7 linked regions of the Homo sapiens genome follow. The protein of the gene in region 3 interacts with the protein of the main gene of each other region in a biochemical or structural test. Each region holds a gene or a part of one and is shown on either strand. Other genes may lie near its edges.

The links.
Region 1: the proteins of SLC2A1 (region 3) and SHANK1 interact in a test that uses a peptide from one of them, tested with the Homo sapiens proteins (one large-scale study listed by IntAct).
Region 2: the proteins of SLC2A1 (region 3) and IL16 interact in a test that uses a peptide from one of them, tested with the Homo sapiens proteins (one large-scale study listed by IntAct).
Region 4: the proteins of SLC2A1 (region 3) and CANX form a complex in vitro, tested with the Homo sapiens proteins (one study listed by BioGRID).
Region 5: the proteins of SLC2A1 (region 3) and PDLIM1 interact in a test that uses a peptide from one of them, tested with the Homo sapiens proteins (one large-scale study listed by IntAct).
Region 6: the proteins of SLC2A1 (region 3) and LDB3 interact in a test that uses a peptide from one of them, tested with the Homo sapiens proteins (one large-scale study listed by IntAct).
Region 7: the proteins of SLC2A1 (region 3) and FRMPD1 interact in a test that uses a peptide from one of them, tested with the Homo sapiens proteins (one large-scale study listed by IntAct).

Annotation. Positions count from the first base shown.
Region 1 is NC_000019.10:50,671,082-50,675,370, forward strand, and holds part of SHANK1 (SH3 and multiple ankyrin repeat domains protein 1), read right to left. Parts: intron 1,034-4,289; coding exon 937-1,033; intron 1-936. UniProt on the Homo sapiens protein: Seems to be an adapter protein in the postsynaptic density (PSD) of excitatory synapses that interconnects receptors of the postsynaptic membrane including NMDA-type and metabotropic glutamate receptors via complexes with GKAP/PSD-95 and Homer, respectively, and the actin-based cytoskeleton.
Region 2 is NC_000015.10:81,290,714-81,295,002, forward strand, and holds part of IL16 (pro-interleukin-16), read left to right. Parts: intron 1-1,842; coding exon 1,843-2,324; intron 2,325-4,289. UniProt on the Homo sapiens protein: Interleukin-16 stimulates a migratory response in CD4+ lymphocytes, monocytes, and eosinophils. Primes CD4+ T-cells for IL-2 and IL-15 responsiveness. Also induces T-lymphocyte expression of interleukin 2 receptor. Ligand for CD4.
Region 3 is NC_000001.11:42,951,994-42,956,282, reverse strand, and holds part of SLC2A1 (solute carrier family 2, facilitated glucose transporter member 1), read left to right. Parts: intron 1-4,289. UniProt on the Homo sapiens protein: Facilitative glucose transporter, which is responsible for constitutive or basal glucose uptake. Has a very broad substrate specificity; can transport a wide range of aldoses including both pentoses and hexoses.
Region 4 is NC_000005.10:179,712,152-179,716,440, forward strand, and holds part of CANX (calnexin isoform d precursor), read left to right. Parts: intron 1-3,747; coding exon of another isoform or gene 3,748-3,849; intron 3,850-3,953; coding exon 3,954-4,143; intron 4,144-4,289. UniProt on the Homo sapiens protein: Calcium-binding protein that interacts with newly synthesized monoglucosylated glycoproteins in the endoplasmic reticulum. It may act in assisting protein assembly and/or in the retention within the ER of unassembled protein subunits.
Region 5 is NC_000010.11:95,280,385-95,284,673, forward strand, and holds part of PDLIM1 (PDZ and LIM domain protein 1), read right to left. Parts: intron 1-4,289. UniProt on the Homo sapiens protein: Cytoskeletal protein that may act as an adapter that brings other proteins (like kinases) to the cytoskeleton. Involved in assembly, disassembly and directioning of stress fibers in fibroblasts.
Region 6 is NC_000010.11:86,677,722-86,682,010, forward strand, and holds part of LDB3 (LIM domain-binding protein 3), read left to right. Parts: intron 1-1,645; coding exon 1,646-1,797; intron 1,798-2,360; coding exon 2,361-2,436; intron 2,437-3,714; coding exon 3,715-4,082; intron 4,083-4,289. UniProt on the Homo sapiens protein: May function as an adapter in striated muscle to couple protein kinase C-mediated signaling via its LIM domains to the cytoskeleton.
Region 7 is NC_000009.12:37,737,731-37,742,019, reverse strand, and holds part of FRMPD1 (FERM and PDZ domain-containing protein 1), read right to left. Parts: intron 1,943-4,289; coding exon 1,136-1,942; exon of another isoform or gene 668-1,135; intron 1-667. UniProt on the Homo sapiens protein: Stabilizes membrane-bound GPSM1, and thereby promotes its interaction with GNAI1.

The sequences.
Region 1 (4,289 bases), on a different chromosome or scaffold from region 3:
GTGCCTGGCCCATCTATAGGTTTTAGCTCAAACCTGCACCCTGCCCCCTACCCAGCACTCCCTATCTCTCTTACCTTACTCCATTATTTTTTTTCACTCTTTTTTTTTTTTTTTTTTTTTGAGACAGAGGGTTGCTCTGTCGCCCAGGCTGGAGTGCAGTGGCACGTTCTCGGCTCACTGCAAGCTCTGCCTTCCGGGTTCACGCCATTCTCCTGCCTCAGCCTCCTGAGTAGCTGGGACTACAGGTGCCCGCCACCACACCCGGCTAATTTTTTGTATTTTTAGTAGAGATGGGATTTTACCATGTTAACCAGGATGGTCTCGATCTCCTGACCTTGTGATCTGCCTGCCTCGGCCTCCCAAAGTGCTGGGATTACAGGCGTGAGCCGCTGCGCCCGGCCCACTCTTTTTTTTGTTTTCCATAGCACGTACAACTGCTAACATACTAGATAATTTTCTTGCTTATTTTCCTTATAATCCATTATCTGTCTTCCCCTGCTATAAGGCAAGCCCATGAGGGCAGGAACCTTTAGTCTGTTTTATTCGCTGACGTATCCCCATTCTAGAACAATTCCTGGCATGTGGGGAGCGCTTGGTAAACACTTGTAAAATGAATGAATGGATGGAATCGGGTATAAGAGAAACAACCAGAAAGCTGTAGCGGGGGCTTTAGCTCACTGCATCCCCATTCTCCAGATGTAGAGCCAGAGGCCCAGAGAAGTCAAGCCACCTGCCCCAGTTCACACAGCTGGGAAGGAGGGGAGCCAGGATTCATGGCCAAGTTCACCCATTTCCAAAGCCTGAACTCTTAACCCAATTTGATGAAACTATGGTCTCTCTGGGAGCACAGAACATTTCCAAGTCTGCTTGCTTTTCCTGAACTGTCACGTTCCTGGCCTCCCCCAGCCCCCACATCTCTTCTTCTGGGTGGCATACCGATAGATTTTTGCCGGAGCATCAACCCAGGTCCTGGAGGCAGGAAAGAAGGACGCTCGTAACTTGGCTGGGCACGGTGGTGGGGATCGAAGCTCGACTTTGGAGCGGCAGTCAGAGGGGGAGAGAGAGAAAAGATAGAGAGAGATCAGTCAGCGCAGAAAGGCTTGTGGCTTCACTATACGGCTGCCCCCATTCCTTCCCTAAGCCCCTGCCGTAAGGGAGAGCAGTGTGAAGACGGTGGAAGGAGGCCGGGCAACGTGGCTCACGCCTGTAATCCCAGCACTTTGGGAGGCTGAGGCAGGAGGATCACCTGAGGTCAGGAGTTCAAGACCAGCCTGGCCAACATGGCAAAACCTCGTCTCTCTACTAAAAATACAAAAATTAGCCAGGCATGGTGGCAGGCGCCTGTAATCCCAGCTACTCGGGAGGCTGAGGCTTGAGAATCACTTGAACCCATGAGGTGGAGAGGTGGAGGCTACAGTGAGCCAAGATCACACCACTGCACTCCAGCCTGGGCGACAGAGCCAGACTCTGTCTCAAAAAAAAAAAAAAAAAAAAAAAAAGAAAAGAAGGCGAAAGGGAATTCTGCGGGAATGAAAAGCCTCAAGTCTGGGCAGGAAGGAGAAAGAAAGGAGAAGAAAGCAGATTTTCCATCGACTCTTGATCTGCTTCCTTCCTCCAGCCACTGCCCACATCCAGGTCCCCACCAGTGTTCTCCGGGATGGAGCAGCCTCTTCCCTCATCTCCCTGCTGCCATCCTTGATCCCCCACCCTGTTCCAGTCTGTTTTCCACACAAGAGTCAGAGGCATCTTTCAAAAAGCATGCTATTGCCCCTGCTTGAAATCCCATGTCAGTTAGGAGGAGATCAGAGGGGACCAAACTCCCAACTCTGGTCTACAAGACCCTCTATGGCAGGCACTGCTGGTGCCCCTGCAGCTGCCCTCCCCCTGGATGCAGCATCCCATCCCTCACCCACTGCTGGGAGGGTCACCTGCCTGCAGCCCTTAAGAATCACCCTCCTTCAGAGTCCTGGACTCGCCCAGTCCGTTATGTGTCCCTGCTTCCTGGAGCAGCCCACAGCCCACGATGGACGGATACGGAGGCCCGAGGCAGCACTAAAGCCGGGGTGCCCAGCCTGACCCCATGGGTTCCCACTCCAGCGTGAACCGTGTCTGCTTGACTTCCTTCCACAACCCCAGCCAGTCTCCCACACTCCCTGAAGGTTCCCCCGTAGCAAACCCTTGGTACAGGAATCCCCACCTCCGGCTCCCGTTCTAGGGAAGCCCACACGAAGACAGGTCCTGCAGGCGGGACCCAGCCCTGCCCCCATTTCCCACTTGCTCCCTTGGTCCACCTCCACCCCCACCTCTTCCTTCTCCTCTGTCAGCCCCAGGTCTACCCTCATTGGAGAACACCTGCGAGCCCTGGTTCTCTCGGCAACAGCTTTCCCTCTTATTGTCACAGTTCCTTTTCAGCGCGAAGTTCTCCTCGGCGAGACCTTCCCCGGCCCCCTACCCAGACTGCACTTCCCTCTGTCCCATTTTCTTCACAGCATCTCTCTTCCCCAGAAACCATCTTGTTTACTTGCTGTCTGTTTCCTCCACTAGCCTAGAAACTCCCTGAAGGCGGGGCTGATGTATCCCAGGCATCGCACCTACAGTGTCTAGGGCCCATGATGCTTTTAGGGGAAGTGTTTTCATTTCTTTTCAAAGTAGAAGTGAAAGAAAAAAAGAAAAGAGAAAATTGTACCCTGGATAATATCGGTCTTTGCAGCAACAAAGTCATAAAATTTAAACTTTTTTTTTTTTTTTTGAGACAGGGCTGGAGTGCAGTGGCGTTAACACGGCTCACTGCAGCCTTGGCCTCCCGGGCCCAAGCGATCCCAACCCCAACCTTCTGAGTAGCTGGGACTATAGGCAGGCACAATCACATCCAGTTAATTTTTAAATTTTTTTGCAGAGGCGAGTTCTTGCTATGTTGCCCAGGCTCATCTCAAATTCCTGGGCTCCAGCGATCCTCCCACTTTGGCCTCCCCAAAAGTTCTCAGATTACAGGCATGAGCCACCGTGTTGGCCTATTTTTTTTTTTTTTAATGCAGAAGGGCAAAAGTGCCTAAGGTTCATGGAAGTCATTATGAAACCTGCCTGAGGGTAGGGTAGTGACTTTATCAGTCTCCTTTCCTACTGAGTCCCCGGTCCCCGCATAGGGCCTGCTGTTCTACAAGCAAGTGTTAGATGAGTAACAGGGAGAATCAGCCAAGGTCAGGCACTTCGGGGCCCTGACTCCCCAGCTTCTGCCAGGTCACCCCATGTGTCTCCCTTCTCCATCTTTGAGACCAGAAGTGCAGAGAAAGGGAGCCCTCTCGGAATGAAGTTCGCACCTTTGGGATGAACCCTTACTTCCTGCACTTCCCACTATACCCCCTCCTGCCTCTTTCCTCCAGCCATTCACAACCATTCCCAGTTCCCTCGCTTCTCACTTCCGAGACTCTGCATGGAGCATCCTTTCCCTGGGCTCTGGGCTCTGCTTGGGAAAGCTCTGTTATCTTAGCCCTCCACCCTGGCCCGGCTACCCGCTTCCTTTAGGCCTGCAGTGCCCCCCTAGAGCAGCCACTAGCCATTCAACTGTACATTTCAGGCCAACGTGGTGGCTCATGCCTGAAATCTCAACATTAGGGAGGATCGCTTGACCCCAGGAATTTGAGACCAGCCTGGGCAGCATAGGGAGACTCTGTCTCTACAAAAATAAAAATTACAAAAATTGCTGGGCACGGTGGCTCATGCCTGTAATCCCAGCACTTCGGGAGGCCAAGGTGGGCAGATCACCTGAGGTCAGGAGTTCGAAACCAGCCTGGCCAACATGGTGAAATTCCACCTCTACTAAAAATACAAAAATTAGCTGGGAGTGGCGGCATGTACCTGTCATCCCAGCTATACAGGAGGCTGAGGCAGGAGAATCACTTGAACCCGGGAGGCGGAGGTTGCAGTGAGCCGAGATTGTGCCACTGCACTCCAGCCTGGGTGATAGAGCAACACTCGGTCTCAAAAAAAAAAAAAAAAAAAAAAAATTAACCAGGCATAGTAGCACATGCCTGTCATCTTAGTTACTTGGGAGGCTGAGGTGGGAGGATCACCTGAGTGCAAGAGTTCAAGGCTTCATTGAGCTATGATTGTGCCACTGCACTCCAGCCTGGATGACAGAGTGAGACTGCGTCATTAAAGAAACAGACCAACCAAAAAGACAAGTGTAAATTTCAATTAATTAAAATTAATTTGTAAAATTCAATTTCTCTGTTGCACTGGCCACATTTGAAGTATTCAACAGTTACCTGTGGCTGGTGGCTACCAAATTG
Region 2 (4,289 bases), on a different chromosome or scaffold from region 3:
TTTTTGCTTTGTTTGGAAGACACAAGATTTTAAAAGCATCTGAATTTAAATTGCTACAAATGTGCCAGGCTCTCTCCAGCTCCCGGTGGTCTCCACCGTTCCCTTTATCCTGTACCAAGTTGCCATTCACACAATAGCCCCTGCAGGCACTTGAGTTTGCAGCCCCTAGTTTATAATAATAGAATATTAGAAAAACTAACATTTGGGAATATAATTCTGACATTTATTTAATTCTTATAATTCTTATAATAAATCAGAGACTATGCTAATTCATGCATTCACACATAATTTTTATGCAAATTTTATAAGAAAAAGTGAGGCCCTCAGAGACTCTCTTACTCAAAGTCATACCACTAGAGCACAGAGGCTCTGGAATGGAGATCCAGCTGGCTTGACTCCCATGCCTAGCCATTGGGCATTAATCACGTCTACCATGGAACATCCTTATGAAAGAACAACATGCAACCATTGGCACTGATATTGACAAGAAATTAAATGATCTGGGGAAATGTTCAGAGAAAAGAACAGAACACAATTTATTTCAGCTCTGGTTTATTATTTCTACCCACCCAACATGCATATATGCTCGGGAAAGCATGACAGAGAAACTCACCAAAATTTTGACAGTAGTTATTTCTGGCTGATAGGAACACAGGTGAAGTGAATTTTTACTTTCATTCCTTCCTCCTTGTGGCTGAGTTTTCTCTAAGGAGGATGCATTATTTCATGATCAGGAAAAAAAAAAAGAAAACTTTTTATTTAAAGAGAAAGTGAGTTAGGAGCTTGGCTGGCCTTGGTTCTCTCTCATGGGGCTCCTCTGGCTTTCTTGGTCTCTCAGAATGAGCTGGAATTTGAGCAAGAGACTAGATTTCAATCCTCTCCCACCCCTTCAAGCTGTGATTTTAGGAAAGGGGCACCCTTGACAGCTTACCACTAGAGAGAAGGGCCTCTCAAGGATGTGTGGGTAGCCCTAGTGCTGGAAACTAGGGTAGGGGGTACTGAGAACCAGGAAGGGCTAATGGGGAGGGAGGGAGGAAGGTGCAGTGGCTAAGAAATAGCGGCTTTCTGCCCTCACCTCACCCTCAACTGGAAAGAAATAGTGACTTCTTCGTGTAAGATTCAAAGTGCCTTGACAGGTAGTTTCTCTGTCTTTGTTATTGAGCCTCAAAATAACCCCAGTGACTTTAAAATTATCATCCTCATTTTACAGATGCAGAAATGGAGTTGGGTCCCCCAGGAAGCTGACTCTGAGATGGAGTTTGGTCTGCAGGCAGTGTCCTGGGGTTCACTACCTGTGGCAGGGAGGGGAGCAGGCAGGGTAGACAGAGGGAGGACGGAGCTGAGGTGCACACCCAACAGCTTCAGCCAAGCCCTGGAGCTCTGCAGCCAAAGTCCCCATTAGAGTTGTCCTATGTTGGCCAACATAGCTGGGCCTCTGTAACCCTATCTCCAGCAGTCCCTGGAGATGGGCTGCCCCATTGGACAAGGCAGCTGTCTGCAGCTGTGGCAGCCCCTGGAGGGACCCACAGCTGAAAGTAGTCTGCCAGCAGCACTCCCCACAGCTGGGACACCAAGCCCTTCCTCGATGGGTGATCTGGGTGGCATATCTCCATATACATCAGTCATAGGCTCAGAAAGCTTGAATGATTTTCCCAACCCAAAGTCATACAGCTCGCCAGGGACCAACACCAAGACTGCCATACTCCAGATCCACAGTGACTTCAGATAAGAAGCAGATGGCCGATGTGCAGTGTGCTGCCCGTGGCAGTCACAGGTGAGGCCAGGGGGTATTTCTGTTTTCTGAAGCTCAGCTGTGAAGATTCTCTTGTGCTTCCCACACAGGTGTCAAAAGGCTGGAAAGCAGTTGGCACGGGCGGCCCACCTTGGAGAAGGAACGAGAGAAGAACTCAGCACCCCCGCATCGCAGGGCTCAGAAGGTCATGATCCGCTCCAGCAGTGACAGCAGCTACATGTCTGGGTCCCCAGGGGGAAGTCCTGGGAGTGGCAGTGCTGAGAAGCCGTCCTCTGACGTGGACATCAGCACACACAGCCCCAGCTTGCCTCTGGCACGGGAGCCAGTGGTGCTTTCTATAGCATCCTCCAGGCTGCCCCAGGAGAGCCCACCCCTCCCAGAGAGCCGGGACAGCCACCCGCCGCTGAGACTGAAGAAATCCTTTGAGATTTTGGTGAGAAAGCCTATGTCCTCCAAGCCCAAGCCTCCACCCAGAAAATACTTTAAAAGTGACAGTGACCCTCAGAAGAGTCTGGAAGAGAGAGAGAACTCCTCATGCTCTTCTGGGCACACCCCACCCACCTGTGGCCAGGTAAGAGGATGGGTCCACAGGTTGAGTGTTTCCAGGACCAGACTCAAATCTTGAGCATGGGCAAATTAGCAAGTTAGTGTTAGCAGGGCCAGAATGAAAGTTTCTCCTGCTCCACCAGAGAGAAACTGTTGCCTAGGACTCAGCTGAGGACTGACCATGAAAAGATGGGTTTGAAGGTTGACAGATAATTGAAGTCCCAGTCCTGCTTGCTGGCATCTGGGTTCCCACCCATAACACACTGGAATTTAAGGTTCCTTTCTTGTGTCATTTTTCACTCACCATGAAGGAAAAATACCAGGGCCCCTGCAGGGTCTCAGTCTTTGCATGTGGATCTTTGAGTGTCCTGCTTGTAGGGAGAATAGTGGCTTAAATAACTAAAAAGGGGCCTGGCACGGTGGCTCATGCCTGTAATCCCAGCACTTTGGGAGGCTGAGCCGGGTGGATCATGAGCTCAGGAGTTCAAGACCAGCCTGGCCAAGATGGTGAAACCCTGTCTCTACTAACAATACAAAAATTAGCCGGGTATGGTGGCAGGTGCCTGTAATCCCAGCTACGCAGGAGGCTGAGGCAGGGAATTGCTTAAACCCGGGAGGAGTGGCTCCTTCCAAGGGCTATTGTGAGGATTAAAGGTAACCACTTAAGGCAAGTACCTGACAGCATCTCAGGCATATTAGCATTCATTGCCATGATCTTTCCCCATCAGGCCCCTTAAAGCCCTCCTTTCCACCCCTTGCATAAAAGGCAGACTGACTGACAGACAGCTGCTGTGTCTAGAACCATTTTATGCGCAGGCTAACCACACTGAGTACTTTCATGTACATTGTGTCAATTAAATCTTACAACCACCTGATGGTGAGAGTCCCAGTTGTGCAAAGAGGGAACTGAGAAACTCGCTCAAGTTCACATTGCTAGTGGGTCACAGTTACCCACTATGCAATGCTGAGTTTCCCATCCTTACCCAGAAGCTGTCTCCCCCATCACGGAATGGCCCTGCAGGGGCCCTGGCCCTTCCCTTAAGCACACCGTGGGCAGGTGGGAGGGGGCCTCTGGAAATCCCCTAAAACAATCTACAGTGAGGGTTGGCAAGCTTCAGGAGGGGTAGCGGTGGAGACGGGATGTTGAGTAGGAGGGGTGAAAGTGAAGGAGGGAGGAGGAAGCCAGGTTACTAAAAAGGAAGTGCAGTTTTGCAGAGCGCTGGCAGGATGTGGCTGGTTAGCAACACATGATGGAGTTATCAGATGGATCTGTTCTCCCACCCCCTCTTTTAAGCCCATATTTCATTTTCCCTTGGGCCTGAGACCTATGAGTCCAGAAGGGCAAATCAGGAGCAGCCAGCTGAGAAGCCAGTCATTTTGCCTTCCTCCTGGAGGCCCAGAAAAGGAGTGCAGTTGCCACAGCAGGTCTGTCCCAGTGATGCCCTTGGCAGAGCCACATAGGGTCAGGGAATATTCCCGAGTAAGGCGTCTGGAGAAGGAACTGGGGTGTCCTCAGGGAAGCCCAGGCAAGGAACTTCCCACAGGTCATCTTTCATGCCCTGTGTGCCTCAGCAGAATACAGGGCTCCCTCCTGTACCTGCCCCCAACAGCACCGTCTCCTGGAGACAAGGCCGTTCTGCAGCTGCCCTCCTCTGTTTGCTCTGGTCTGTCCCACGTGGCCAGCAGATCCTTCTCCCACAAACATTTCCATAAAAGCAATCAGCACGACATAATTTTATTGGGCACTGGAGAGGCGGGGGTCACAGAGAAAGGATCATAGCACGCAATAGAAAACAGGAAGCAATTTGCTTGAGGTCACTCTCAAAATTTCCTTGACCATTCCTGGGGATTTCTCACTGGATGTTTTCTTCCGTGGCCACAGTGTCCACTGTCTCACTCTCCCACTTTTCCCTCCCTGCAGTCTTTTCTCTACAGGGTCCCAAGACTGTTGTCAAGCTGCTATGGATGACCCCCAAGTCTTTCCCATCTA
Region 3 (4,289 bases):
AGCCACCACGCCCGGCTGTATTTTTAAATTCATGCACATGCAGTTTGATACTAACAGATGATATGCCTTCATAAAATAGAAATTTCAAAAGACAGATAGATACAAGACAGCAGTTATAGTCATTTTCCCCTCCAAATCTTGTGTAGATCATTCCATATACATTCTGGAATAAAGCCCTTCCCTTTGGAGACTGCTGATTTGACCTGCAAGCACAGCCTTTTTGTGCATGATGTTAGAGGCCTGGGGAGGTCATATCGCTTGCCTTTCACACAAGATCTGAAAACCAGGTGTGTCTGGCTCCAAAGCCTTGGTTCTGCTATGTTCCTCTTTGTCTCCTAGGAAATGGGAACTGACTTAACTAACTTCCCCGTGTTCCATTGTGCTCCTCTGTAACTCACAGTAATGAGCTTAGCTGAATAGGAAGTAGGGGACAGATGGAATCACCTTGCCTACAAGCCAGGGGTTCGCCCACGATCTCTCCTGGGCAGCACGCAAGGGTGAGCCCTGCCCCAGATGTCTCACCCCACCCTTCGTGAAGAACTTGTAACTAGCCTTGCCTATGCCCATCACTCATCACTTTTCTGGCCAGTCTCTACCTTCCAGAAAAGGAAAAATCAGAAATCTGCAGGCTTTCTCAGCCCCTTTGTGGTGCAGACAGCATAGTTTTTTGTTTTTTGTCTTTTTTTGAGACGAGGTCTCACTCTGTCACCCAGGCAAGTATCTTGGCTTACTGCAACCTCTACCTCCCAGGCTCAAGCGATTCTGTCACCTCAGCCTCTTGAGTAGCTGGAACCACAGACATGCGTCACCGTGCCCAGCTAAATTTTTGTATTTTTGGTAGAGACAGGGTTTCGCCATGTTGCCCAGGCTGGTCTCGAACTCTTGAGCTCAGGTGATCCGCCCACTTCAGCCTCCCAAAGTGTTGGGATTACAGGCGTGAGCTACCGCACCCGGCCAAACATAGATGTTTGCATATGTGGTTTTGAATCCCAGCTTAGCTTAGTTGCCCAGTTTTCATCATTACAGTGTCTAGGAATTCAGAAAAGAATGTACGTCTCTGTCCCCATAGATGCTCCATAAATATTTCTTGCTTCCTTGGACTCCCATGATGCCTTACCTGGGCTGTGGGTGACTTGTACCTGGGCCTTGGCCTTTATCCAAAAGCTGGCATTCTGGCAGTATGAGCTTTTGGGGAGTCAGGATGCTGGCCCATGGGTATTAAGTCAGGTAAATCATTAAAGCTCCCACTAACCCATTCTTCCTAGTAGGGGCTTGTTGGGAAGTGAGTAGGCATGGCACATGGGTGAGAGTGCCAGGCCAGGGAGGGTCAGCTCATGTGAGTGCCCTGCGCTGCTTTGGGCTTCTTTGCTTTGCTTTTTTGCCTTAGGCTTCCTGCCTACCTTTCTGAATTTGGGTCACCCTTGGGATAGTTTGAAAGGGACATTCATGTCCATTAACTCCAAGGGTCCTCACAACTGCCCTGTGATACAAGTTACAGTGACCTCATGGTCCAATAAAAAATGACTTTGCCAAGATCACACACTGAGCCTCCCACCCCAAGACATGCTGCCAGCCTTTCCAGGATGACATTAGAGGGTGGAAGGAACCCAGAGCAGGAGGGGCCTTCCAGCCATGGCCCAGCCCTCCATTTGACAAATGGGGAAATTGAGTCCAGAGAAGGGAAGAGATTTGTCCGAGATAAGGCTATCACAAAAGATTTGAGGCGTTCTATGGAGCTGTGTTTTGTTTTGATTTTTGAGACGGAGTTTCGCTCTTGTTGCCCAGGCTGGAGTGCCATGACACAATCTCAGCTCACCACAACCTTCGCCTCCCAGGTTCTAGTGGTTCTCCTGCCTCAGCCTCCCGAGTAGCTGGGATTACAGGCATGTGCCACCATGCCCGGCTAATTTTTTTGTATTTTTTTTTAGTAGAGATGGGGTTTCTTCATGTTGGTCAAGCTGGTCTCGAACTCCAGACCTCAGGTGATCCGCCCACCTCGGCCTCCCAAAGTGCTGGGATTACAGGTGTGAGCCACCGCGCCTGGCCTAGCTGTGTTTTTTTTTTAAAGATGCTTTCTTCTCCACATGCCTGTCTGTGCCATCCTCCACCCACCCCAAATGAGCAGGAATCCCCAGACACAGGACTTGCCATGCCATAGGAGCCTGAAAGTTGGATTAGACGTAACTTGACAACTGAAACTCTACTGTGAATGGAAACAAAACACTAGATGTTCCCACTAAACTCTGACCTTGAAGAAGTGGCTTTCCTTGGAGCCTTGGTTTCCTTCTCAGTAAATAGAGACTTGGCTACCCCCAGTGGATGTGGTGAGACTGGCCCCGTGCCCTAAATTAGAGAAGTGGCTATTTTAAGTGGAAAGACCCTTTGTAAGGCCAGTCTGGGTGTACAAATGATGTAAACAGCCCCAAGATGATCCTTGTCTAGTACCGAGCCATCCAGGGATTCGACCCTATTTGCCCCGGAGCTGGGCCAGCCTCAAATCCCCCGTAATCAGCTTGTGACTTCAAGGAGCTCAGCTTTGCCCAGTGCCTCCTGGTCACGGGGTGTCGGCCCAGAGCTCTGCTCAAGTACCAAGGGTACAGCCATCCAGCTCCCTGCTTCCCCAAGACTGGCAAAGCTGGGGAGGCCTGGAACAAAGAGGAAAGTGTGCAGTGTTGGCTTGGGGCCTGCAACCTCACCCCTTCCCCCACCTCACTCCTGGGCATAAAGGTGATAAAGCCGCTCACTCAGTCTGCAGTCTGGTAACCGACGTCCCCATGATGGCGGAGGCTGGGAGGCCTCCTGACCAGATTCATGGGCTCAGAGAGGCTGTGTCCAGGCCTGCAGGCCCAGCCCTGGCTACCCTAACAAGCCTCCAATTGTTACCTCTCTCCACGGGAGGGGTGGACTGGAGCCTGAGGCTCTGTCTTCCAGCCACCAGGCCTGGCAGTAGCTGATGCATAAACATTAGGGTTTTGCAGTAACTGAGCAGGGCTCCCAGGCCTTGAACCTGGGCAGAAAGAAGACAGCATCTCCTCTCTTTGTGACCACACTGACTTGCCTCCCTGAGGCTTCTGCACCCTGGAATGGGAGAGAGCTCTTGCCAGGCCTCAGCTGATGGAGCCTTTGGCTACTGAGGCCTCTGCTGGACAGGAAGTCTGCCTATGTCTCCTAGCCCAGTTTATCTCCCCCTGCCCTGGCATTTGGGAGTGGGGAGGAAACGGCTCCATCAGAAACAGCTCTACCATTGGACCTTAGGCCAGCCACACTTCTTGTTGGAGCTTGTGTCCTCAGCTGTACTGGGGATGAGAGCTAGCTGTCTGGGTCAGCGGCACTGAGGCTCCAGGGGAGCATGTGGTCTGTGCAGCAGGCTTGGGGAGTGCTGAGCAGCACAGATTGGGTTTCATAGCACAGTGGGAGCCCAGACAGGCCAGCTAGCCATAAGCACCTCTGCTGGAGGAAGAGGTGGACTCTCTTGGGCTGGAGGGCCCAGTTCAAGGAAAGAAACAAACAGCTACACTGGGCTCCTTGATCACCCAGCTGTGGCAGTTCTTCTTGAGGACTTCCTGCCCCTAGGTGGGGGCTGCCTTCAGCTCCCTGCTGCGTGTGATAACTTGGGTGTGGCCCTCACAGCTGTGCAGAAGCTATTCCCAGAGGGTTCTGGCCCCAGGTAAACAGATTCTGCTCTGGGCTCGCCTTGCCTCCATCCCACAGCCCTGTGTGCTGTCTGTGGCACAGCCTAGAGCAGCACTGCCTCGTGGCCCTGGCCCTTATGCGGCTGGAGCTGATCCTGAAGTCCAGTGTCCCAGCGGTCATGGCTGGCATCATCACCATCTACAACCTGGTGATGGAAGTCCTTATCCCCAACTCGCTGATCGACTGCATCAGCCTCTACGGGAATCTCCTCCAGCCAAGCGCTAGGCTGAGTGTGGGCCTGAGTGGCCCGGCAGCCAGCTATGTCATCAGCACTGTGGGGGACACAGTGCTGCCTAGAAGCCCGGGCTATTTGTGGGCTTGATCCTGATCCTCATTTTCACTGCATGGTCTCATTCTCTCCACAAAGTAGCCTTTGAGCCCACCAGCCACAGAATGTGATATAAAGATCACCCCTGCTTATTCCAGAATGAACAGCCTGAGACACATATCCCTTCAGTAGTTGGTCTTGTGAATGCAGTGTCCTAGTGCAAATGCCCATCATCTGTTGACCCCATCCTTGCCCCTGCCTGCCCCATGCTGTGGATATCTGGGCCCCCTCATCACCCATCCTGGCCCCCTGACCAGTGAGGATGCCC
Region 4 (4,289 bases), on a different chromosome or scaffold from region 3:
ATCTAATTTCTTCCTTTTTTTTGTTGTTGTTGTTGAGAAATGTTGAATAATAGAATAAGTTATATTTATAATTATACATAAATCCAATAAAAATAGTTTTTCAGAAGTATCTTGTAGTTGAACTTATTTGGATGCTCCAATACCTGGACAATTGACAATTGAGTTGAATCATTTTGATACAGGGTTTTTTTTGGTTTGTTTGTTTATTGAAGCTTTTCCTGCTAGTTTGAGATCATAAATAGGCATGCCTCTTTCTGAAGAATATAATAACCTTTTTTTTTTTTGAGATGGAGTTTCACTCTTGTTCCCCAGGCTGGAGTGCAATTGTGTGATCTTGGCTCACCACAACCTCTGCCTCTTGCATTCAAGCGATTCTCCTGCCTTGGCCTCCCAAGTAGCTGGGATTACAGGCATGTGCCACCACGCCTGGCTAATTTTTTTTTTTTTTTTTTTAGTAGAGATGGGTTTTCTCCATGTTGGTCAGGCTGGTCTCAAACTCCCGACGTCAGGTGATCTGCCCGCCTCAGCCTCCCAAACTGCTGGGTTATAGGCGTGAGCCACCGCGCCTGGACTACCTTTTTAATTTTTTTGAGGCGGAGTATTGCTCTGTCACCCAGGTGGGCGTGCAGTGGCGTGATCTTGGCCTACTGTGACGTCTGCCTCCCGGGTTCAAGCGATTCTCTTGCCACAGCCTCCTGAGTAGCTGGGATTACAGGCTTGTGCCACCATGCCCAGCTAATTTTTCTTTTTTTTATTATTATTATTTTTTTTTTTTTCCAGCTAATTTTTCTGTTTTTAGTAGAGACCGGGTTTCACCATGTTGGCCAGGCTGGTCTCGAACTCCTGACCTCAAGTGATCTGCCCGCCTCAGCTCCTGAAAGTGCTGGGATTACAGGTGTGAGTCACTGTACCCAGCCTAGAATATAACAACCTTTTTTTCTTTTTTTTGTGACGGAGTCTTGCTTTGTCATCCAGGCTGGAGTGCAGTGGCGCCATCTTGGCTCACTGCAGCCTCCGCTTCCCAGGTTCCAGTGATTCTCCCGTCTCAGCCTCCCCAGTAGCTGGGATTACAGGCACACACCACCATGTCCAACTAATTTTTGTATTTTTAGTAGAGCCTTGTTGGCCAGGCTGATCTCAAACTCTTGGCCATCTGTTGATCCGCCCACCTCGGCCTCCCAAAGTGCTAGGATTACAGGCGTGAGCCACTGAGCCCAGCTTAACCTTTTTTTGTTATTTCCAAAAGTAATACATATTTAAGGTATAGAAATTCAGAAGCCATAAGTAAGCAAAAAGAAAACACTTAAAGCGAGGGAGAGGGGTTGAAGACAAGTTGGTTAATTGGTACAGAAATAAGGTAGAAGGAATAAATTCTAATATTTGATAGTACAGTAGGGAAATTATAGTTAGAACAATTTATGGTGTATTTCAGAAGAGCTGGAAGAGAATTGTACTGTTCCCAATACAAAGAAAAAGTAAATGGAGCCAGGTGCAGTGGCTCAGGCCTATAATCCCTGCGCTTTTGGGAGGCTGAGGTGGGAGGATCACTTGAGGCCAGGAGTTCTAGACCAGCCCGGGCAGCATAGTGAGACCTTGTTCCTACAAAAAAATAATTATTCAGGCTTGGTAGCATGTACCTCTAGTCCCAGGTGCTCGGGAGGCTGTGGTATAAAAGGATCCCTTGAGTCCAGGATTCGAGATTGCAGTGAGCTATGATTGGGCCACTGCACTCCAGCGTGGGTCACAGAATGAGACTCTGTCTCTATAAAATAGAAAGAAAAGGTAAATGTTTAAGGTTACAGATATTTCAATTACTGTGATTTGTTTGTTTTGTTTTGTTTTGTTTTGTTCTTTTTGTTTTTTTGAGATGGGAGTCTCTCTCTGTTGCCCAGGCTGGAGTGCAGTGGCCTGATCTCAGCTCACTGCAACTTCTGCCTCCCGGGTTCAAGCGATTCTCCTGCCTCAGCCTCCTGAATAGTTGGGACTATAGGCATGCGCCACCATGCCCGGCCAATTTTTTTGTATGTTTAGTAGAGTTGGGGTTTCACCATGTTGGTCAGGCTGGTCTCGAACTCCCAACCTCAAATGATGGGCCTGCCTCAGCCTCCCAGAGTGCTGGGATTATAGGCATGAGCCACTGGGCCCGTCCAATGACTGTGATTTGGTCATTACACATTATATACATGTATCAAAATATCACACGTACCCCGAAAATATGTACAAGTACGATATGTCAATAAAAACATACACAAAGAAGTCACTTAAAATTATCTTAAACATCAGCATTGTGATATATATTTGTCAATATGTGTATATACACATATACAACTTTACATGCTATATCTAACTTTTTTATTTTTTTATTTATTTTTATTTTTTTTTTTGAGACGGAGTCTCGCTCTGTCTCCCAGACTGGAGTGCAGTGGTGCGATCTCCGCTCAGTGCAAACTCCGCCTCCCGGGTTCACGCCATTCTCCTGCCTCAGCCTCCCGAGTAGCTGGGACTACAGGTGCCCACCACCACGCTGGGCTAATTTTTTGTATTTTTGGTAGAGACGGGGTTTCACCGTGTTAGCCAGGATGGTCTCGATCTCCTGACCTCGTGATTCGCCCGTCTCGGCCTCCCAAAGTGCTGGGATTACAGGCGTGAGCCACTGCGCCCGGCCCTTTTTTATTTGAGACAGAAACACTGCAATCTCCACCTCCCAGGTTCAAGCGATTCTTGTGCCTTAGCCTCCCAAGTAGTTGGGTTTACAGGTGTGCACCAACATGCCCACCTAGTTTTTGTATTTTTAGTAGAGACAGGGTTTCACCATGTTGGCCAGGCTGGTCTCGAACTCCTGGCCTCAAGTGATCCACCTGCGTTAGCCTCCCAAAGTGCTGGGATTACAGGCATGAGCCACCACACCCGTTTCTTAACAACAAAAGAGTGTGAAGTTCTTCCTCACAGAAATATTCATTTTCATTATCACTGACACAGCAGCATAGGATTCCTTGTTTGGATGTGCTGTAACTCAGTCTCCTGTGTATTAGATATCTAGGTGTGGAATCTGGGCTTTAATATACATCACACTTAAGATGCTTTTATGGGGCCCATGTGGCTGGGCACGGTGGCTCACACCTGTAGTCTTAACACCTTGGGAGGCTGAGGTTGGGCAGATTGCCTGAGCTCAGGAGTTTGAGACCAGCCTGGGCAACATTGCAAAACCCCATCTCTACTTAAAATACAAAAAATTAGCTGGGCATGGTGGCACGGGGCCGTCTGTAGTTCCAGCTACTGCGGAGGCTGAGGCAGGAGAATCGCTTGAACCTGGGAGGCGGGCGTTGCAGTTAGCCGAGATCACACCACTGCACTCCAGCCTGGGAGACAAAGCGAGACTCTGTCTCAAAAAAATAAAATAAAATTTTAAAAAATGCTTTTATGGATTTAAAATTGTTTTTTCATTCTCCATGGGAGTTAAAAAGTAGAAAGTAGAATCATGAGTGGACATGCGTTTTAATAAATTGGAGGTTTGTGTAATTTCAGTAACGTAATAATACCAGCTCTATTAAAAATGAAGAAATGGACCTTTTGTACTGGGAAGTAGTTGTAAGTCCACGTATTTGTCTTCTCACTGGTGTATATGTGTAAGCCCAATAATTGTGTTAGTTTATGTAGTTTCTTGTTTTTTTTGTTTTTTTTTTTTAGTGTCTATAAGTCAAGTCTTTGGTGTTAAAGATTTTAACTATCATTTGCTGTAATTCTTAGAAAGCCGAGGGACTAATCATTTATGTTTCGTGCATAAGGAAATGGGCGTTAGCTTCCCCAAGACCCCAGGAGCCAGGCATTGTTCTTACCCCAAAGCCTCAGGTCAGACTTCTGCTGCTTCACGTTAGAAGTCATGATCTTTTGTATTATGGTAAAGGGAGCTTGGAAAATTAAGTACTTTTAATTCCATTTAATGTTTCTTTCAGTCTTGAATCCAGATAATAGTTTTGAAATACTGGTTGACCAATCTGTGGTGAATAGTGGAAATCTGCTCAATGACATGACTCCTCCTGTAAATCCTTCACGTGAAATTGAGGACCCAGAAGACCGGAAGCCCGAGGATTGGGATGAAAGACCAAAAATCCCAGATCCAGAAGCTGTCAAGCCAGATGACTGGTGAGTCTTGGGGAACTGTCTTCAAGTGTAAGGGAGCATTTCATATATTCCATGTGGCTTGAACAACGAAATGTTGGTTGAGTAAGCTCTGATAATTTCAGTAATCCATGATGCAGTCTAATCTGTAGGGAAAATATAGAGTACTA
Region 5 (4,289 bases), on a different chromosome or scaffold from region 3:
AAAAAAAATTTAAAAACTCTTGTGTTGCCTCCTAGCCCCTTGATACAAATGAGTTTGTGACCACTGGCTCAGTTTAAAAGTTATGGAAAGCATGATTATATGTAGAAATACTTTATGACTAGGATTACCAAATGCCCTGATTTGCCCAAAACAGCTTAACTATCAAGACCACCCCATTTCATTCGCAGAAGTACTCCAGCCTGGATAATAAACAGTACTGTTGCCTTTTTGACAGAGGTGGGGGTTTTAACCAAATATTTGTCAAATGGTTTAAATGGTTCTCAGGCAGAGGTTTTTGCTTTGTTTTATTTTTTTCTTTTTCTTGAGGGAAAAACCGTGTCTATTCAGAAGGCTTATTTGTGGACAGGACTACAGGTCAATTTCCTGACTCTTTATGGAACGTTGTTAACCTTGCCCCTTGGAGTTGGCTCTAAACCTCAGGCCAGAAATCAACCCCACTCACCAATACTCAGCCAACTGTGATATTTGCAAGGATGAGGCAATGGTTTTCAAACAGGTTGGTCATCAGATCCCATGGGGGCAGGGATTCAAAATATAGATAGAGCTCCACAACCCATCTCAGATCCACCAAAGACAGCCTATACAGTGAAACCCAAGAACCCATACCTTTTTAAAGCTTCCCAGAAAATGTTAATGCTCATCAGGTTTGGAAACACCAAGAGAGATGATGACTATGACTATCTTTTCCCCTTAAACTCTCTCCCTGAATGAAGTTAAAGTCATCAGGTAGACAAAAAGTAATTAGACCCTAAAATCTCAGCTCCTCCAGAAACACCTTCAAGGGCAGAACTTATACTCCTATAAAATACATACAAAGCCCTTGAAAGGAATATCCATTAGAATAGTATTCCTCTATCTCTTACCAAAACAGACTTAAAAAAAAAAAAATAGGCCAGGCAGGGATGGCTCATGCCTATAATCCCAGTACTTTGGGAGGCCACAGCAGGAAGACTGCTTAAGCCCAGGATCTTGAAACTAGTCCGGGCAACACAGTGGGACCCTGTCTGAACAAGAAATTAAAAATTAGCCAGGCATGTAGTCCCAGCTACTCAAGGAGACTGAGGTGGAAGGATCGCTTAAACTGGGAGGAAGTGGAGGCTGCAGTTAGCTATGATAGCACCACTACACTCCAGCTTGGGCAATAGAGCAGGATGCTGTCTCAAACAAAACACAAACAAAAAAATACAGCCCCTGTAATGTTGGTTAACACCCCTGAAAATGCTATGCAAATGAAGCATTGCATAAGTAATTTTGTTGTTTTTTTTAAATAGAGATGGGGTCTCACTGTGTTGGCCAAGGTGGTCTTGAACTCCTGGCCTCAAGCAATCCTCACACCTCGGCCTTCCAAAGTGCTAGTTTCACAGGCATGAGCCACTGCGTCCAACCAGTAGAAGTATAATAACTCCAAACAAGATATCTAAATAACTCGACGTGGGTCCTATTTTCCCTTGGCCAGAAAACTCACAGCTAAATGTAGTGTGCAATTACAGAACCAACTGATTTAAAGTTCCTGGCACTTCTCTCTCTTTCCTCTTCCATGTTCCAATTTTTTGTTAAATCTTATATGTGTTCTTGTGTTTTAAATATTGTAAATGTGTAACTAAGTGAAAGACAAGCCTAAGACAAGCCTGCAAGTAAGTGAAAGAGACAGCCTAAATAACGATAGTAATAATTATATACAACTGGGATAAAGAAATGTGAGATTCAAGTTCAATCGCAATGCTACATGCCTTTAAGCATAATCTCCGCTGATTTAACAGTTGTGTCAAGGTATTTGGGTACAAATTTAACAGATTCTAAACTGGGGATAAAGCAGGACCCAGCTCTGTAGGATGCCATTTACATGTGGAATTTGAACTCTCTTTAGTCAGAATCTTCTGACTCAGTATGTTTGTGAGCCGAGGCTGTGGCACAGACTTCACAGCCATATTATGGCTGCAGAAGCTGTATGCATTTACACAGGGTGACCTGAAAACATAACACTGTTTTAAAATGTTCTTGGTTAGTCTATAACCATTTTCTCAGGGAAATGAGGCAATAAAATAGGGTAGATGCTTGTAGATAAGTTGCACCTTAATCCAGCTTCACACTATGCATGGTGCAAAAAGAAGTTATTAGTGCTAAGGGGTGACAGTTCAAAGAGACGTGCTGCTCTCTCAGTCTGAAAGACCGACCACCATTTCTCAGACAGGAATATAATAAAACAGGTAGCCAAATAGAATACTCTGACTAAATTCTTAAGAAGTCATCGAGGCCAGGCGTGGTGGCTCATGCCGGTAATCCCAGCACTTTGGGAGGCCGAGATGGGCGGATCACTTGAAGTCAGGAGTTCAAGGCCAGCCTGTTCACCAACATGGTGAAACCCCATCTCTACTAAAAATACAAAAAATTAGCCAGGTGTGATGGCGCACGCTTGTAATCTCAGCTACTTGGGAGGCTGAGGTGGGAGGATCACTTGAACCCAGGAGATGGAGGTTGCAATGAGCCGAGATCATGCCACTGCACTCCAGCCCAGGCGACAGAGCGAGACTCCGTCAAGAAGTCGTCGAGTTCCTCAAAAGTTTCCAAACAAGCTCCTATGAACCCTACGTGCTTTTAAATAGCTCCAACAGCTACCACCCATAACCCAAAGCCTAAACACTCACTAAACCTTGAGGGAATTACTCTCTCTGACTCAGTATCTTCATTTATCAAATGAAATTTATAATGCATCAACCTCATCAGGTTGCTGGAAGGCTTAAATGAGACTGCATTTGTAAAGAGTTCAGAACAATGCCTGGCACGTAATAAACACTCAATATATAGTAGCTACCATTAATATTTTTAATATTTAATAGTTTAATAGTACCACTAGGCTCTCTCTATATATCATCTTAATCCTCACCACAACCTTTGAAGACAAGCGCTATTATTCCCACATTGCAAATGAGGACACTGAATTTTCAGGGGTTAACCTGTCCAAGAACATACAAGCTAGTAAATGGACAAGATAAGGTTTGAACTAGATCTAGCAGATATCAAAAATGTATTTTTCCCTTGACATTAAGATGTCTTTAATTCTTGATTTGTTACAGTAAAAATAAGGCAGAAAGCACAAAGCAATGAAGTCCCAATAGTTCACTGAGATATAGTAATTTGGTTTTAGAAATGCTACGTGTGCGGAAAAAGTCTGGAAAGGTTTGCAGCCAGCTGTTCACTGTGTTTACCTCTGTAAAGTAAGACTGGGGAAGCCTTTTACCTTATGCTTTCTGTAGGTTTATATTGTCCGATCTTTTAAACAATTACGCGGGCTTCTATGTAACCTTTACTGAAGGATGACATGTATACAGCACAAATGGTAACGATACAGCTGATTGAATTCTCACATACAGAGCACACCCAAGGAAACAGCATGGGATAAAGAAGAGGACATTACCTGAACTGCTAAACCTCCCTGTGCCCGCCTTCCGTCACTGACCTTCCGGCAAAGGTCTGCCATGATCCTGACTGCTAACACTGTAGATTAATTCTGTCTAATTTTATGTAACTGGAATCACACAGTATTTACTCTTCACTCTTAGGTATGGCCTTTTTCTCTGTGTGTGTGTGTGTGTGTGTGTGTGTGTGTGTGTCTCCTTCATGTCACTGTGCATAGTTGTAATTTCTTCACTCTTGTTGCTGTGATGTTTTATACCATATAATTACACCCACTACTTATCTATTCTATTGCTGTTAGACATGTGAATCGTTTCAAATTTGGGGCTATTATGAATAGTGTTGCTTGGAAAATTCTCAAACTTGTCCTTTAGCACTCATGTGGACCCAGTTTCTATTGACTATTTAACTAGGAGAACTGTTGGGTTATATGGTATGGGTATGCTCAGCTTCAGAAGCATAAGTATTTTTTATTATTTTTTTAAAGAAATGGGTGCAAACTATTTGCTGCATCAACCATATTTAATCTATCTGTATGCATTTTTTTTTTCTAGATGGAGTTTCGCTCTTGTTGCCCAGGCTGGAGTGCAGTGGCGTGATTTCAACTCACTGCAACCTCCGCCTCCCAAGTTAGAGCAATTCTCCTGCCTCAGCCTCTTGAGTAGCTGGAACTACAGGTGCCTGCCACTACGCCTGGCTAATTTTTGAATTTTTAGTAGAGACAGGGTTTCACCATGTTGGCCAGGCTGGCCTCAAACTCCTGACCTCAGGTGATTCACCCACCTTGGCCTCCCAAAGTGCTGGGATTACAGACATAAGCCACCAAGCCCAGCCTCTGTATGCATTTTCAATAT
Region 6 (4,289 bases), on a different chromosome or scaffold from region 3:
GCCTTCTGGAGGTATGACATCAACTACAGAACCCTAAGCCCTGCCCCATTTCCCAGCTGAGTTTGCTCATCCAGGCAGGGTTGTCGGCTACCTCACTCTCTCCACATCTGCCAGGTAGCACAAAGCACCTGGCACTAAGATGCTTTTGAGTGGGTGCATTTATCCTGCCCTTCAGCCTGGCAGTGTCTCTGGGATGCTGCTGTGTCTTAGCTGCTGCATCTCCCTTTTCTCCTGGAGTCTGAAAAGTGCTCCATAGCTTTGCAGGGTGCAGGGGTTATAAGAGGCTAATCAAGGTTACAAATAGCCTGCAGTTTTTTGTTTGTTTGTTTGTTTTTAGACAGAGTCTCGCTCTCACCCAGGCTGGAGTGCAGTGGCATAATCTTAGCTCACTACAACCTCCACCTCCTGGGTTCAATCAAGAGTTCAAGCGATTCTCCTGCTTCAGCCTCCCGAGTAGCTGAGACTACAGGCACATGCCACCATGTCCAGCTAATTTTTTTTGTAATTTTGGTACAGACGGGGTTTCACCATGTTGGCCAGGCTGACCTCAGGTGATCTGCCTGCCTCAGCCTCCCAAAGTGCTGGGATTACAGGCATGAGCCACCACACCTGGCCACCCTTTTTTTTTTTTTTTTTAAGACCGAGTCTCCCTCTGTCACCCAGGCTGGAGTGCAGTGGTGCAATCTCAGCTCACGGCAACCTCTGCCTCCTGGGTTCAAGCAATTCTCCTGCCTCAGCCTCCCAAGTAGCTGGGACTACAGGCGCCCACCACCAGGCATGGCTAATTTTTGTATTTTTAGTAGAGACAGGGTTTCACCATATTGGCCAGGCTGATCTCGAACTCCTGACCTTGTGATCCACCCACCTTGGCCTCCCAAAGTGCTGGGATTACAGGCGTGAGCCACCACGCCCAGCAGATGCCTGCAAATTTTTAAGAGACAGAGTCTCCCTCTGTCACCCACGCTGGAGTTCAGTGGTGAGCGATCATAGTTTATTGTAACCTCAAACTCCTAGGCTGGAGTGACCCTCTCACCTGCCTCCTGAGTAGCTAGAACTACAGCCATGCACCACCACACCCTGCCAAATATTTTTATTTTTGTAGAAACAGGGTCTGGGCTCCTTTGCCTGGGCTGGCCTCAAACTCCTGGCCTCAAGCAATTCTCCTACCTCAGCCTCCCAAAGTGCTGGGATTATAGGCATGAGCCACCATGTCCAACAGCCTCCAAACCTTAATGGCTCAGAACAACAAAAGTTTCTCATTCATGCAACGTCCAATACAGTGCTCCTTAATCATCTCTCCTCCTCTCCATGCCCTGCATTCAGTCAGTCAACAAGCAGAGAGTGTGCAGGATCACAAGGATGGTTGCTAGAGGCAGACCTGGAAGGAGCATACATTGCTTCCACCCTCATTCAGTTGGCCAGAGCTAGTCCCAAGGCTGCAGTCAGACACAAAGCTCTAAGCAATGTGGTAGTCATGTGCCGGAAAGAGGAACTAGGCTTGGTTAGCAGCTGGTACTGGCCGTAGCGAATGAAAAACACAATGACGGCTTCTGTTGAATACTCCCGGGTGACTCTTCCCCAAGGACTGGCCTTTCCTCAGGACCACCTTCCTTATGCTCACCCCCCACCTCCACTATCCAATCAGATCACACCAGGCAGCAAGGCAGCCCAGTCCCAGCTCAGCCAGGGTGACCTCGTGGTGGCCATTGACGGCGTCAACACAGACACCATGACCCACCTGGAAGCCCAGAACAAGATCAAGTCTGCCAGCTACAACTTGAGCCTCACCCTGCAGAAGTAGGTGGGAGCTCTCCAGAGCAGGGGGCGGAGGTTTGGGTGTGGGCATGGGGCAGGGGCCAAAAGAGGGATTGTCCCATAGCAATTGAGTGGGCCCCGCCCTGGGCTACAAAACTGTGCAGGAAGATAAGGACAGCCCTGGGCCAGAGGAATGAACAGGCCCAAGTCGCTGTCAAGCACCTAGAGGCAGACATTACTGCCTCACTTTACAGTTAAGGCAGAGATGGTGGTCCTGGTGCTGCCCGTACGTGGGCCATTGGTCCTGGAAGGCAGGTCTTACCTACTTCCACTTTGCCCAGGCAGCCCCCAGTGACGTAGCAGGGGCCCATGGATTCTGACCAAAATGCCCAGGGGCCATGATTTCTCCATCCTCGTCGGGCCCAGGGCCTTCTTGGGGAGATCCAGCCCATGGGGTGGACAGTGGATCTGGGGCCCTCTGACTCAGCTATCTCTGAGAGCTGACTCTGGCTCTCTCTTGCTCTCTCCTCACCAGCCCTGCCCAGGCAGGAGCTTCTGGCCCCAGGGGCAACTTCCTCACCTGGTCTCATTTCTGGTTTCTACAGATCAAAGCGTCCCATTCCCATCTCCACGACAGCACCTCCAGTCCAGACCCCTCTGCCGGTGATCCCTCACCAGAAGGTAGGTGCTGACTGTGGCGGCGGGGTCCACTCAGCCCTGGTTCCTGGAGTGCTGGCCCTGGCCAGCCTGCCTGGTCTTTGGCTGGCCCAACTGGGATGAGGCCGTGGGATCAGCCCTGCCCCATCCCTGCCCCTGCTGCAGCTGACCCTGGGGAAGTGAGGCAGCCCCTTGGGAGAGACTTTCAAGCCCCTGTTGAACACTGGATGTGGGAATGAATGCCTGCCTGGGTGCAAGCCACCTCCGCTATGCCTCGTGGCTGGGCTGATAGGAAGCCAGCTTGGGCAGCAGTGTTCCCAGGAGAGGGGTCACCCTCCTGGCCAGGCAGGGGACGAGCGTCCAGGCTCTGACCTTCATTTGCCAAGGGGGCCACCGCTGGGTGACTGTGGCTGAGGCCCAGCTTGACGAGGACCTCCAGGTGTGGAGGGGCCTGCTGGCCTCACCCAGATCTCTCCCTCTGGTTTCCACTTCCCCACCTGCCCCTCCCAAGTGCATTCCCCTGTAGCCCTTAGGACGTGCTGGCAATGGCAGGCACAGGGGAGAAGGGAGGCCAAGCCCTGGCTCCAGACCTCACCACTGCCTAGGCCCTTCCCAAGGCCCCGCCAAGCAGCTCAACCCCCGAGGGCTCCCTGCTCAACTTCTCCCCCTATGTGAACTGATAGTGACCCCACCTGTCCAATGGGGCAGATTGGGCAGGGCAGTGGGGAGAGGGGAGAAAAAGAGGCTGACAGGGGTGGGGTAGGTCACAGACTGGGGAAGTGGGTGGAGGGCTGCTTGGGAGATGCTTGCAGAGGTAGACTGAGGGGCCCAAATGTGAGCTACCCAATTCCTCAGCTTCCCTCCTCACCTCCCCACCACCTGCCCACAACCAGCCCAGGAACTTCATCTCACTGGCAGTGTGGGGTCAGTGGAGCAGGAGGCTGGGCTGTGCCCACTGGGCACCCACTCTCAGGGGCAGGGGGAACAGACACAGAACGGGCCATCCCCTGACCCCTACACCCACTTCCTCGGGCCCTGGGGGCAGGAAGCTTGGCTTGGCTTCCATGCAGGGCTTGGCACTCTGCCCAGCTGGATGCCAGCCTCACGCCAGGCCAGGAGCCATGTGCCTGCCTGCTCCTCCACCAGTGTCCTCCCCTCCAAGTGCTGCGCCCAGGCGCTCTGGGCTTCAGGCTGCGGGGCTCGCGCTAACACATCTGTTTCAGGTCCACGCAGGAGCGCTGGGACGCGTGTGGCCTCTAACCGCTCTCTTCTCTCTCCCCTGCATGGCCTGCCCTGTGCCAGGACCCCGCTCTGGACACGAACGGCAGCCTGGTGGCACCCAGCCCCAGCCCTGAGGCGAGGGCCAGCCCAGGCACCCCAGGCACCCCGGAGCTCAGGCCCACCTTTAGCCCTGCCTTCTCCCGGCCCTCCGCCTTCTCCTCACTCGCCGAGGCCTCTGACCCTGGCCCTCCGCGGGCCAGCCTGAGGGCCAAGACCAGCCCAGAGGGGGCCCGGGACCTACTCGGCCCAAAAGCCCTGCCGGGCTCGAGCCAGCCGAGGCAATATAACAACCCCATTGGCCTGTACTCGGCAGAGACCCTGAGGGAGATGGCTCAGATGTACCAGATGAGCCTCCGAGGGAAGGCCTCGGGTGTCGGACTCCCAGGAGGGTAGGTAACGGACATACAGCTCTCCACAGGTGGCCTGGGCCACCTGGGTCCTCGGTGCTCGGCAGAGACCTGGTCAGGTGGTCAGAGCGAGGCACTGGCCCCAATCCAGCCAGCCCCGAGCCCATGAGGTCAGCAGTGATCCTGCGGCATTTGCCATGAGCCGGGCATGCTAGCGATTTATACAACCAACCACGCTGGGGTGACATG
Region 7 (4,289 bases), on a different chromosome or scaffold from region 3:
AATATGTAATTTACAGGCTGTGCGAGGTGCCAGACAGGGAGAGCCCCAGGTAATGCAAGAACATGTGACAGAGATGGGGAGACTTGCCCTGGCCTGGGAAGCCTGGGAAATGTTCTCTGAGGAAGTGAATTCCAACCGGAATCTGATAGACGGATGGGCACCATCAGCCACGATCTGGGGAGGAGTGTTTCGGTCAGAAAGAGCAGCATGTGCAAAGGCTGGAGGAGGGGGAAAAAACAGGCACTTGTAGAAAGTGGCAAGGAGGTCTGTATGGCAGGAATGCAGGAGGAGGGAGAGAGACAGGCAGAGGCCATGTCACAGAGGGCCTCAAAGGGCCTGATGGGGCTCCCAGAGGAGCTGGCCTTTCTCTCCAGAACAGTGGGAGAGCACAGGAGGTCTGGGAATAGAGGATCAGAGAGCAGCAGGAAAGTGCCGAGACAGGAACAAGGGCTGCAGCTCTCCCAGCTCCTGGCAGGTCACCTTCAACATCCATGTGCTCTTTTCCAATATGTTTCCTTCAGAATGCAGTGTGTGTGTGTGTGTGTGTGTGTGTGTGTGTGTGTGTGTGTCCTGCCAGGATCTCAGTTCTGCTTGGAAAGACCCTCCACACTCTCGGTGGAGGAATGTATGAGGAACCTGATAGAAACACAGCCACCAGATCCCCTACCTTCTGATGTCAGGGTCCCTTGGACCCCAGAAGGCCTTGCAGGGCCACAGACGGCCTGTCTGTCTGGTTCTTCTTGCTTCAAGGCCTCCTTTAATGCAGCCTCAGGATCAGTGATGACATAGCCACTTCGCTCTGCCGGGCACTCCTGTCAAGCCCTTTCCTTTTTTGTAAATTCTGTCCCTCCCACAGGGCCCAGCCCATTTGCCCCCTCTTCTGGGAAGCCTTCCCTGATTCCCACTGTTGGATGAATCCCTCCCATCTGCTTGCCACAGTTGTCTGAACCTCCCTTGCAGGCCTGCCACGATGCCTAAAATTTGGTCCATGGAATCTGTATCTACCTCCTCAGAAGTGTACAGGGACCCTGTTTCACTCATGTGCCTTCCTCTCAAGCTTGGCCCCAGGCCTTGATCCCCGGGAGGCACTCAGGAGCTGCCTGCCGTGTCTGCAGACCTGCAAGGGACGGCTCACCTGACGGGGGGCCTGGGGGAGTGAGCTTATCAGCCGCGTCATAGTATTCCTCATCTGAGCTGCCATCCTCAAAGGCCAGTGGTGGGTGCAGGGCCAGGGGTTCCAGCATGGAACTGGGCTGGGCCTCAGTCCAGCCCTGCTGACCCCAGGCTGGCGGGGCTCCCCCTTGCCGGGAAGCTGTACTCTCGGAACTGTCACTCAGGTAGCTGGCCGGGGAGACACTGGAACACAGGCTGTAGTAGTCAGCGTGGCTGCCTTCATACAGCCTGGGGTCCAGCCTGACTGTGCTCAGTTCTGGTGCCCAGCCAAATGTCTCCAAAGCAGCACTCTCGGAAAACTCTGTCTTCTGGCACTGGGGGTTGGCTCTCTGGGCCAGGTCCAGGAGACAGAGGAAGCCACTGGTTTCAATCCCGCTTCTCTCCTCCTGGCTGTCAGAGTCAATGCTCTCTGCGAGGCCTGGCGAGCCAAAGTGGAAGAAGGTGGACCTGCTGGAGGAGCAGGTGTCTAAGTCATCCTCTTCCAGAGCGTCCATGGACTCACTCGAGCCACTGGTCCTGTAGCCGCGGCTCTCAGTGTTGGCTGAGTCGGACGCCTCGGACTCGGCACTGTCTGTCGTGCTGCTGGCCCCGCAGGTGCTGGGGCCCCTCCTAGCCACCTCAGGTGTGGGGCTGTTCCCAGGAGGCTGCTCCTCCTTTATGAGTGATCTGCAGGGTGCCAGTTTCACCAGGCGCCTGTCAGAGAGAGGTTCGAGTACGCAGTCCACCTCAGAGGACTCCTCTGAGTCACTGCAGGCCCTGGATTCATAGCCTGCAACACAGGGTACAGCAACAGTTACACAACAGAATTCTCCTACCTATGTGTCCTTCTAGCCCCCTGACCCCCACCCAACCCTGCCAGACGAGAAAACTGAGGGCCAGAGGGTGGCTGGCCTAAGACCGTCCTATACTGACGAACACGGGATCCGAGGGACTCCAGCTTCCATGTTCTCCCCATGCTATCAGACCGCCTGTCCCACATCTCTCTGAGCTAAAGGAGGCTGGATTAACTCCATCCCCACCTCCAAGGAGAACTGTCTGTTCATGGAAATGTGGTATTTACTTTGATTCCTCTTTGTGTGGGCAGCACTGCCCAGGTTTGCTAAGCCCCTCCCCAGACCTCAGTTCTATCCTGCCTGGGCGTCAAAGTCAGATGGGGAATCATATTTTAAAAATACAACAGATCCTTGGCCCTACCCCTGATGTACTGAGTCAGATCGCTAGAAGTGGGGCCTGAGAATCTGTATTTTTAGCAATTTTATGACGAGTACGAGGCTGCTAGGCTGGCACCATTCTAAAGCCTGGCCTTCTGGATCCATGGGTGCTATGGGCTTTGTAGGACAGTGAAAACTCATCCAGCGGCAGGTTCTCAGGAAGGATTAATGGTAGGAGGCTGGGGAGCACTGAGCCAGGTTGCAATCTCTTTATTCCTGTAAGCCTCCAGAGTGATCTTTCTCAAACTTCTCTCTGACCTCATCACACCCTGCTTAAACCCTCTGATGGCTGCCCTGCTTACGGGGAAGAGCCTGGCCTCCCCCACAACAGTTACAGACTCTCACAGTATGGCCTTGTTGCCCTTCTCACAGGATGGCCATGGCGCCTCATGCACAGTCTAGTCCTCCCTTGCCTCAAAGGATGGCCCTAAGGCCTCCTCTGCAGGCTCTTCCCCCTCTCCCAGGATGGCCCTGAACCCTCCTCTGCAGTCTAGTACCCACGACAGGATGGTCTTGACACCTCCCCTTCAGTCTAGTGTCTCCCTCACAGAATGGCGCTGAGGTCTCCTCTGTAGTCTAGCTGCCCTTCTCGTGGTGGGGCTCCTATCTCTTTTCACCATCTCCCTTTTCCCCTCTTGCAATATGGTCCAGCCCCTCCTCAGGCACCCAGTCCCCCATGGCAGCCTTCCCTGCCACGTTCCAGCCACCCATAGGGAGAGCTCCTTTCAGGTCATGGCCTTTTCCTCGGGTCATTCCTCCAGGCCCCCTCGGCCTTGAATGATCTGTCTTCCTTTTCCGTGCCTGGTTAACTCCAGCATGTTCTTCAAGATCTATTTCCAATACCTCTTCCTCTAGAGAACTTTCTCTGACAGGCAGCAGCAGTCCCCCCCACAACCCCTCCACAACAGCCCTGTTGCCACTCTGCGTTGTCTCCCTGAGCAGACTCTGAGGAGTCACCCCTCGTTCATAAATACATTGTGTAACAACAAAGGTAACAGGCTGGGCGCCGTGGCTCATGCCTGTAATCTCAGCACTTTGGGAGGCTAAGGTGGGCAGATCATTTGAGGTCAGGGGCTCGAGACCAGTCTGACCAACATGGCGAAACCCCATCTCTACTAATGTACAAAAATTAGCCGGGCGTGGTGGCAGGTGTCTGTAATCTCAGCTACTTGGGAGGCTGAGGCAGGAGAATCACTTGAACCCAGGAGGTGGAGGCTGCAGTGAGCCAAGATTGCACCACTGCACTCCAGCCTGGGTGACAGAGAGAGACTGCCTCTAAAAAAAATAAAAATAAAAACAAAGGTAACAGATACTCCAAACTCATCACTTTCTAACTGTTTTACTTATTGTATTAGTACCTATTCTCTTGAGCTGATTTCTACTTTATCCATATAGAGGAAACACTCTACAGTGGTGTGCTATTGATCACCTCTTCCCATCTCCACATTCATCATGGTATCATCATATCGTGGTAGCCTGAAATTACCCATCGTGAGAATGTTGACACCATGGAATTGGGCAATTCCTTCAAACTGTTTTTGTCCCTCTGCAGGGAGTTGTTAAGCATTTATCAGCACAGCCCTAGGTTCATGCTGCATCAATGGTGCTGAGGCAAAAGCCTGGCAGAAACTGGGAGCTGGCCTAGGAAACTGTCTTACCTGCCTTGCAGAGAAGTTCTTTTATACTTCAAGAGATTGCAAAAGAGTGCATAGGTAAGGAAGAGAAGCCAGGTCATCTACTTCCTGAACAAATAAGTGACATCTCTTTTTGATGAGAAATAATGATAATCTTTTTTTTTTTTTTTTTTTTTTTAAGATGGAGTTTCGCTCTTGTTGCCCAGGCTGGAGTGCAATGGCACGATCTCGGCTCACTGCAACCTCCACTTCCTGGGTTCAAGCGATTCTC